Homo sapiens: one gene and its partner. The protein of the gene in region 1 purifies or fractionates together with the protein of each later gene. This does not show direct contact. Each region holds a gene or a part of one and is shown in the gene's direction. Other genes may lie near its edges.

The links.
Region 2: the proteins of LPIN3 (region 1) and CAMKK1 purify together in Homo sapiens (affinity purification with mass spectrometry; 2 studies listed by BioGRID and IntAct, with this or other methods). This does not show direct contact.

What each region holds. Positions count from the first base shown.
Region 1 is NC_000020.11:41,343,811-41,347,718, forward strand, and holds part of LPIN3 (phosphatidate phosphatase LPIN3), read left to right. Parts: intron 1-1,985; 5' UTR 1,986-1,993; coding exon 1,994-2,185; intron 2,186-3,741; coding exon 3,742-3,837; intron 3,838-3,908. UniProt on the Homo sapiens protein: Magnesium-dependent phosphatidate phosphatase enzyme which catalyzes the conversion of phosphatidic acid to diacylglycerol during triglyceride, phosphatidylcholine and phosphatidylethanolamine biosynthesis therefore regulates fatty acid metabolism.
Region 2 is NC_000017.11:3,886,377-3,890,284, reverse strand, and holds part of CAMKK1 (calcium/calmodulin-dependent protein kinase kinase 1), read left to right. Parts: intron 1-3,908. UniProt on the Homo sapiens protein: Calcium/calmodulin-dependent protein kinase that belongs to a proposed calcium-triggered signaling cascade involved in a number of cellular processes. Phosphorylates CAMK1, CAMK1D, CAMK1G and CAMK4. Involved in regulating cell apoptosis.

The sequences.
Region 1 (3,908 bases):
GCACTTTGGTAGGCCAAGGTGGGAGGATCACTTGAGTCCAGGAGTTTGAGACCAACGTGGGCAACATAGTGAGACCCTGTCTCTACAAAAGAAATTTAAAAGTTAGCCAGTTATGGTGGTACATGCCTGTAGTCCCAGCTACTCAGGAGGCTGAGGCAGGAGGATCACTAGAGCCTGGGAGGTTGAGGCCGCAGTGAGTCATTTTGGTGCCACTGCACACCAGCCTGGGTAACAGAGTGAGATCCTGTCTCAAAAAAAAAAAAGAAAAGAAAAGAAAAGAAAAATATGCAGATGCTGATTCAGTAGGGCTGAGTTGGGCCTAAGTTTCTGTTTCTAACAAGCTCCCAGGTGATGCTGATGCTGATGTTTGTTGCTGGTGCATACCACATTTTGAGTGCAGGGCATTGCAGGGCTGTGCAGAAGTGGCCATGGGCCATGCAACCAACTCTTGGGTGGTTTGGAAGCATGGAGTGGAAGGAGACCATGCTCTAGAGTCAGGAGAGCTGGATATGAGTCTTTACTCCCTCTCTCCCCTCCCTATACCCCTTCTATGGCCTGTCAGCTTAGAAGAGCTTGAATAGTTTCCTCACCTGTAAAGTCACTTAACCTTGGGTAAGTCACTTAGCTTCTTTGCTAAGTGGTCTTGCATGGCAGGCTGTCCTCCAGGGGTTCTGACCCAGGGTCTGAGAGAAGAAAGTGCTCTGTAGAGATAGGACAGTCTGGGTCTTGGCAGGCAGAGGGGCAGCAGGCCACTGGCCTGGCCAGGAGGGCAGGGGTGATCACCTGAAGCTGCTGGGGCAGGCACTGTGCCAGCTTGGAGGAGGCTCTCATCATAGCCCTGTTTTTTCTCTGAGGCCGCCTCAGCCTCCTGCTTTGGGCTTACCCAGGCCTGTCTGGTGTGGGAAAGCTGGAGAGACCGGTCTGGCTGGGGGAGGGAGCAGCTTCAGTGGGCTGAGGCCAGCCCAAGGCCTGATTGTGGGTCTGAGCGCCTAGCCAGCTCAGCCCTGGTCTGAGGAGCTGGGGTTAGGGTTGAAATTGGGGTCTGAGAACTATAGCCTGGACACCGCTGGGGTCAGGCTGTGCATGGACAGGCTTCCCACCAGGGAAACTGGGAAGGAATTTGTAGTTTGGGGCCTTAAGCCCCCAGCTATAGGGGATGCTCTGCCTTGAGCATCTGACCCCAGGAATGGGGCTGAACAGAGCCTTGAGTACCTGGGGTGCTCCCACCCTTGGTCCCCCATAAGTCAGCTACAATCGCCCAGCAAGACACCTTCCAACTCACAGGACCAGCAGATAGCAAGACAGCTGAGCCCATTTCTCAGATGGAAAAGTGGAGGCTCCTTCGTTCCCACTTCTTGGGAAAAGAAGAGTACTCATTAGCACAGTCACCCATTATCCAGCAGGGCCCTGGGCCTGCTATCTAATGAGGCTGCCCCCTCTTCCCACCCCCTCCGTTTTCACAGTTGGACCATCCCAGTGGAACCACACAAACCTGGGTTCAGATCTCAGGTTCCCTCCTTCATAGTTATGAGGCTCTGGGCAGGTCACTCCACCTCTCTGAGCCTCTGCTGGCTCATCTGTAAACAGGAATAATGACACCCGCTCAGCCAGCCCCACAGGGTTGTTGTGAAGATGAAATGAGCCGTACCCACGGAACACTGTGGTCATTATCATTAGTCATGGCATTTAGAGGCACGAGGCAACTGGGTATTGTTTTACCTTGTGCCCTATTTTACAGATGTGGACATCGGCACTTGGGGAAGGAGGCGGCTGCCCAAGGGTCCCTTAGCAGGGCAGTGGGCAAGCTGGGGTTAGACCCACATCTACAGGTGTACCTCCCATCGCACAGCTGCTGCCATCTGTGCAAAGGCACTCCAAGGCGTGACACAAATGTAAACTTGGGGGTCTGTGTGGTCAGGCTGCAGGAGCTTCTTGTGGAGGAGCTGGAGCAGACCTTTGTGCAAGCCACTGCCTTTCTTTGCCAGCACCAGCCATGAACTACGTGGGGCAGCTGGCGGAGACGGTGTTTGGGACGGTGAAGGAGCTGTACCGGGGCCTGAACCCAGCCACACTGAGCGGCGGCATTGACGTGCTGGTGGTGAAGCAGGTGGACGGCTCGTTCCGGTGCTCACCCTTCCACGTGCGTTTTGGCAAGCTGGGCGTCCTGCGGTCGCGGGAGAAGGTGGTGAGTGCTCAGGCTGGCTGAGGTGGCTACTGCAGAGTGGGCTTTTTAAGCTGGGGCAGCCACTACAGTCCCAGGACAGGACCTGGGGCCTCCCTTAGGTGGGGATCTGTCCTCTGGACAGGCTTCCCTTCATTTGTACTTTCTTTGAAGGTTTTTGGGTTGATTTGGGGGTTTTGGTCTGGGAGGGTTCACAGTTAGTTTCTCATGGAAACAGACCAGTAGGGCTCATCCCAGTGCTGGGGCCGTCAGACCTGGCTCAGCTTACTAAGACCTTACCTGTGTGTTCTTGGTAAGTCACTTCATGCCTCTGAGCCCAGTTACTTCACCTGCACAAATGGATATGATTTTATCGGCCTAATGATGCTGGTGGGACAAGTCAATAGCAACTGATAATACTGTCTCAGGGCCAGCTATGTGGGAAACACTCAAATGTTAGTTTCTCTCTCTTAATAAATCCACTTCAGGCTGGGCATGGTGGCTCACGCCTATAATCCCAGCACTTTGGGAGGCCGACGCTGGTGGATCACCTGAGGTCAGGAGTTTGAGACCAGCCTGGCCCACATGGTGAAACCCAGTCTCTACCAAAAATAGAAAAATTAGCCGGGTGTGGTGGTGGGCACCTGTAATCCCAGCCACTCCGGAGGCTGAGGCAGGAGAATCGCTTGAATCCAGGAGGCAGAGATTGCAGTGAGCCAAGATTGTGCCATTGCACTCTAGCCTGGGCGACAAGAGCGAAACTCCGTCTCAAAAAATAAATAAATAAATAAAAATAAATAAATAAATCCATTCCACCTTCACAGGGCTCAGGCAAGCACAGCAGAGATTTTTGTTAGCAGCAAGGTCTAGGGTGTGAATCAAGATTCACACTGAGGCAACTGTGACGTTTCCAGGATCCTAATAGAAAAGTGTAGCCTATGGGAAATAGTATATCTAAGAGGCTAGTAGCTTGGGTTGTAGACTCAGCCTTTTTGGCTTCATAAGCTCACTTGCTGTGAGGCTGCCTCCTAACCAATTACTCAAACCCCCAAAGCCTCAGTTTCCTCATCTGTAAAGTGGAGGTAATGATAGGAGCTACTGCAAGGGGTTGCAGAGATTAAATGAGATAATCTATAGAAAACACTCCACAAAGGGCCAGTACACTAAAATTCCCACCATTGTTTATGCAGCCAATAACCTGGGGGCTGGGGACACAGCGATCACAAGAGAGACCACGTCCCTATTCTTATGGATGTGAGAGACAGAGGGAAGAACTTGGAAACCAGGCAATACACAAGAAGACCGAGACAGTGACAAGTACAATGAGGCTCAGACAGTGGGGCAGTGTGAGTGAGGGAGAGATGGGTAGGGAGCTCAGTGAAGGCCTCTCTGAGGAAGGGGAGATGCAGCAGAGCCCCCCTTCGTGGGGAGCAGCCAGGCACTTGAGGTCCGGAGGGAGGGAACCCCAGCAAGTATGGTGTTTGGGGCGGCAAGGAGCCACTGGAGGACCAGCCAGGAGGCCTGTGGTCGGAAGCATGGGCGTGAAGGCCCATGTCCCTGCCACCGCTTTCCATTTGCAGGTAGACATTGAGCTCAATGGGGAGCCTGTGGACTTGCACATGAAGCTTGGGGACAGCGGGGAGGCCTTCTTTGTTCAGGAGCTGGAGAGCGATGATGTGAGTCTGCCCTCCTAACAGCACCTGCCCCGCCCACCCCTTTCCTGTGCCTCTTCTGGGCAGAGCCTTGG
Region 2 (3,908 bases), on another chromosome or scaffold:
GTCCTCACAGCAGGAGTCGTCAAGCATGACTTGGCACCAGACGCCTGGGCCTCCCTCAAGGGGACTGAGTCATCCCGGGTGGGGGCGGGAGCTGCGGAGGGCACCCGTTGCCAGGGCCATCCAGATACTCGCCAGGATCATAAACACAGCTCCAGTGAGGCGGCCCAGGCATGGGAGGACCACCTTCTGTGTCTGGCCTGGGTGGCCGCCACCTCTGCGGCTTTCCCTTCTGTTCGGTCCTCTGCTGGTCACGGCTGTCCATCCCCTCGCCTGGATGTAGCTGGTCCCCTGCCTCGGCTTGGCACTGGGGTTCACAGCGGCCTTCCAGCGCTCAGAATGAGGCCTGACCAGGGCCTGACCAGCTCCCAGGTGGAGCTACTTGAACCCGCGTGGATGGCAGCAGGGTCTGCCTGCTCTGGGGCTCCTTTGAGGGATGCAGCTGGATGGGGCATGTCCTGTGGAAGAAGCCAGGCCAAGTGGGCGTCTGGAGCCGGGGGCCCACATTCCTTGGGAGTGGCCAGACGCTTGGGGGGTGGGGCACAGCCTGGGAGGAAAAACCTGGGTGGGGGATATGTGCCAGGCCATCTTGGAGCTGGGGGCAGAGGTGGGGTTGGACCTTGCACATCAAGGCTCTCTTGGACGCTTCTAGACACAGCCACATCCCAGCCCCACAGTGCTGTGGCACAAACTACTCCTGTGTCCACACCTCATTCTGTTCCTTCCATCGCCCTGGGAGTTGGCAGGACAGTGGCCTTCTGCTTGATGCACGTGTTAGGAAACAGAGGCTCCAAGAGGCTCGATGACTTGTCCGAGGCAGCAGATCCCCAGTCTGGGGGGACAGGATTGCAGTAGTTTTTCCCAATGAGGGAGGGCTTGAGTCTGGCTGTTCACGGCCGCAGGACTAAGCCAGTGCCCATGCCCACAGGAATCCTTCGCTGTACCATGGGCCTGGTTCCCGGCCTGTCTGTCCATCTTTCTGTTTGCCCACATGGCCCTAGTTATCCACCGAATTAAGTTTCTACAGAGTATCTACTAAGGCCTGAGCTTGGGAAGGGCCTTGAGACACCCCCTGTGTGAGCCTCCAGATGGGCCTGGGTTTCCGCCCGGGGCACAGAATCCAGCCCAGCAGGCAGTGCCAGGCTGGTGGGACCAGTGACTATGGGGAAAAGTCCAGATATGAGCTCTGGGATCAGGCTCCCAGGGCCCCCAGGGGCGCGGACCACCCCCCTACCCTGGGCATAGGTACACGGAGACCTGCAGGCACACAGGCGCATAAACACACCTGCGCACACACACATCACACCGAGGTTTTCATCTCCATGCAGTGCGCTCCTGTGTGGGGACCCACAACACACACACACACACACACACGCCACCACCCTGGTCCACAGCCTGCGCACACATATTCCCTCCTGTGGGGACACACGCCCTCACACACGCGGCCGGGGCGCCAGGCCCTGTCTCCCGGACACGCGGCAGGAACCTCGGGCCTCCCCGGCCGGCCGCCTCCCTCGCAGACGCGCTTAGTCACCTGAATTTGATCCAGGCGGGAGGGAGGGATGGGGAGCCTGACGTCAGCCCTCGCGGCCGCCTTCCGCCCGCCCGCGCATCCATCTGGGCCTCAGCGTGTCCCGAGCAATCACAACAGCAGCCGCACAACAACAACTCACTTTTACGGCCTCCTTAGTGGCAGGCACTGTTCTGAGCGCCTTACGGGCGTTCCCTCCTCAGCATCTCACCACGTGCGGTGAGGTGAGGCCCGCTAGAACCCCATCTTGCGGGCGAGGAAAACCCAAGGCACAGAGGCGAAGCCACCTGCTCACGGGCTCCCAGCCAGGAAAGGGTGCAGCCTGGCTGCCTGGCTTCAGAGCCTGGGCGCCAAACCGGGTAACAGGGCTCAGGCTGGAACAGGAAACCTTCTGCCCCGACTTGCTGGGTGACCCCGGGCCCATCCCCACCCGCTGGGCCTCCCTCTACCTATCTAAGAAAAGCAGGGAAAGGTGTTCAAGGGTAAAGGAGGATGGCCTCTTGCTGGAATGGCAACCTCAAGGAAATACGCAAATTTTATGGGCCCGGGCAGCCTGTGGCTTCTGCCTGTGGCGGCTCTGAGTCCCGTAGTCCCTGCCTAGGGCCAAAAAGCAGGAGCTCCTGACTCTGGAGTTCATTCTGTTATATGTGCTGGGGCCTGAGGCTTGCTGGGGTTGCCTCTCTGAGGCTGCTTTCTCATCTGTCTAATGGGGACAGGGCTGTAACGATCACTATGGCAACCACTCATTTATTCAACAAATATTTATCGAGTTCCTATCACATGCCAGGCACTGATGATCTTTTGGAGACAAGGCAGATGAGCGTCCTAATCTCATGAAACTTACATTCGGGAGGGAAAAACAAGGCATGCGGAGTGAGGGGAAGGGGCGGAGGGGTGGGCCACCTGCTGGGAGGAGCCTGGCGGGTCCTGGAGGGTGTTCCCAGCTTTGGCTTCCTCCTTCCTATGCTGTCTGGTTTCCAAGCTCTCCCCGAAGCTCCAGCCCCACTCACTGTCCCTCTCACCTCCTCCAGGGAGGCCTCCCTATGCCACAGCCTCTCACCTCCTCTGGGGAGGCCTCCTTATGCCACAGCCCCACTCTCTGTCCTCTCTCACCTCCTCCAGGGAGGCCTCCCTGTGCCACAGCCCCACTCCCTGTCCCCTCTCACCTCCTCCAGGGAGGCCTCCTTGTGCCACAGCCGCACTCACTGTCTCCTGCCCTCTCTTCCAGGGAGGCCTCCCTGATACTCTAGCCTCACTCAGCCTCCTCACCTCCTTCACCTCCTCCAGGGAGGCCTCCTTGATGTTCCAGCCTCATTAACTCCCTCTCACTCCTCTGGGTCCAGCTTCCATGACTTTTCCTGTTCCTAGTGTGGAGCCTCCTCTCTTCCTTTCTCCATGTCAGCACCAGCCCCACCGCCTCCAGGCTTCTACTCATTCAACACACTGCGTACCGGGCACAGGGGGTCTGGACCTCACCCTTACCCTCAGTCTACCTCCAAACCCTGCTGTGAGCCTGGAAAATATGGGAAGGCAGGGAATCCACAGGACAAGTCGGGAGACTGGGGCTCAGAGTCGGGAAGGAGCTGGTCTAGGGCCCCTGGTGGGTCAGCAGGCAGGACTGGAACCCAGTCCTGGCTCCTCAGTGGCCGGTGGACTCCAGCCAGCCCTGCCTCGCTGACATCTGTCAAAGCAAGGGGATGGGGAACGAGCGGTAGAGCAGGCGCTTCACCATGCGTACTCTGGGTCTCCCTGAGACCCATGTTCTCAGTTGCTGTGTGGGTTCGGAGGAAGTTACCAGCAGACAGGAAGGATGGAGGGTCAGGAGTTCACTCACTTCCTTCTCCTGAGAACATGCAGAGTCCAGCGCAAGCAGGGGGAAGGGCATCAGGTTGGGCATGGCCAGCGCTCTACAAGCCTGGGACAGAGATGGGGGTCTCAGGCTGAGTGTCAGGGTTCAGTCCGGGGTCAGGATGTAGCCCAGGGTCATGGCTGAAGGTGAGGGCTGGGGGTCACCTCCCTGATGTTTCAGCCGCCACACAGTGAGTTTGAGAACATGAGTCTCAGGGGATGTCATGCCCCTGTTTCACCCCTCATTCCCCTCATTCTCATCCCCTTGCTTTTTTTTGAAACCGAGTCTTGCTCCGTCACCCAGGCTGGAGTGTAGTGGCGTGATCTTGGCTCACTGCAACCTCCACCTCCCAAGTTCACACGATTCTCCTGCCTCAGCCTCCCGAGTAGATGGGATTTCAGGTGCACGCCACCATGCCTGGCTAATTTTTGTATTTTTAATAGAGACAGAGTTTTGCCATGTTAGCCAGGCTAGTCTCGAACTTCTGACCTCAGGTGATCCACCTGCCTCGGCCTCCCAAAGTGCTGGGAT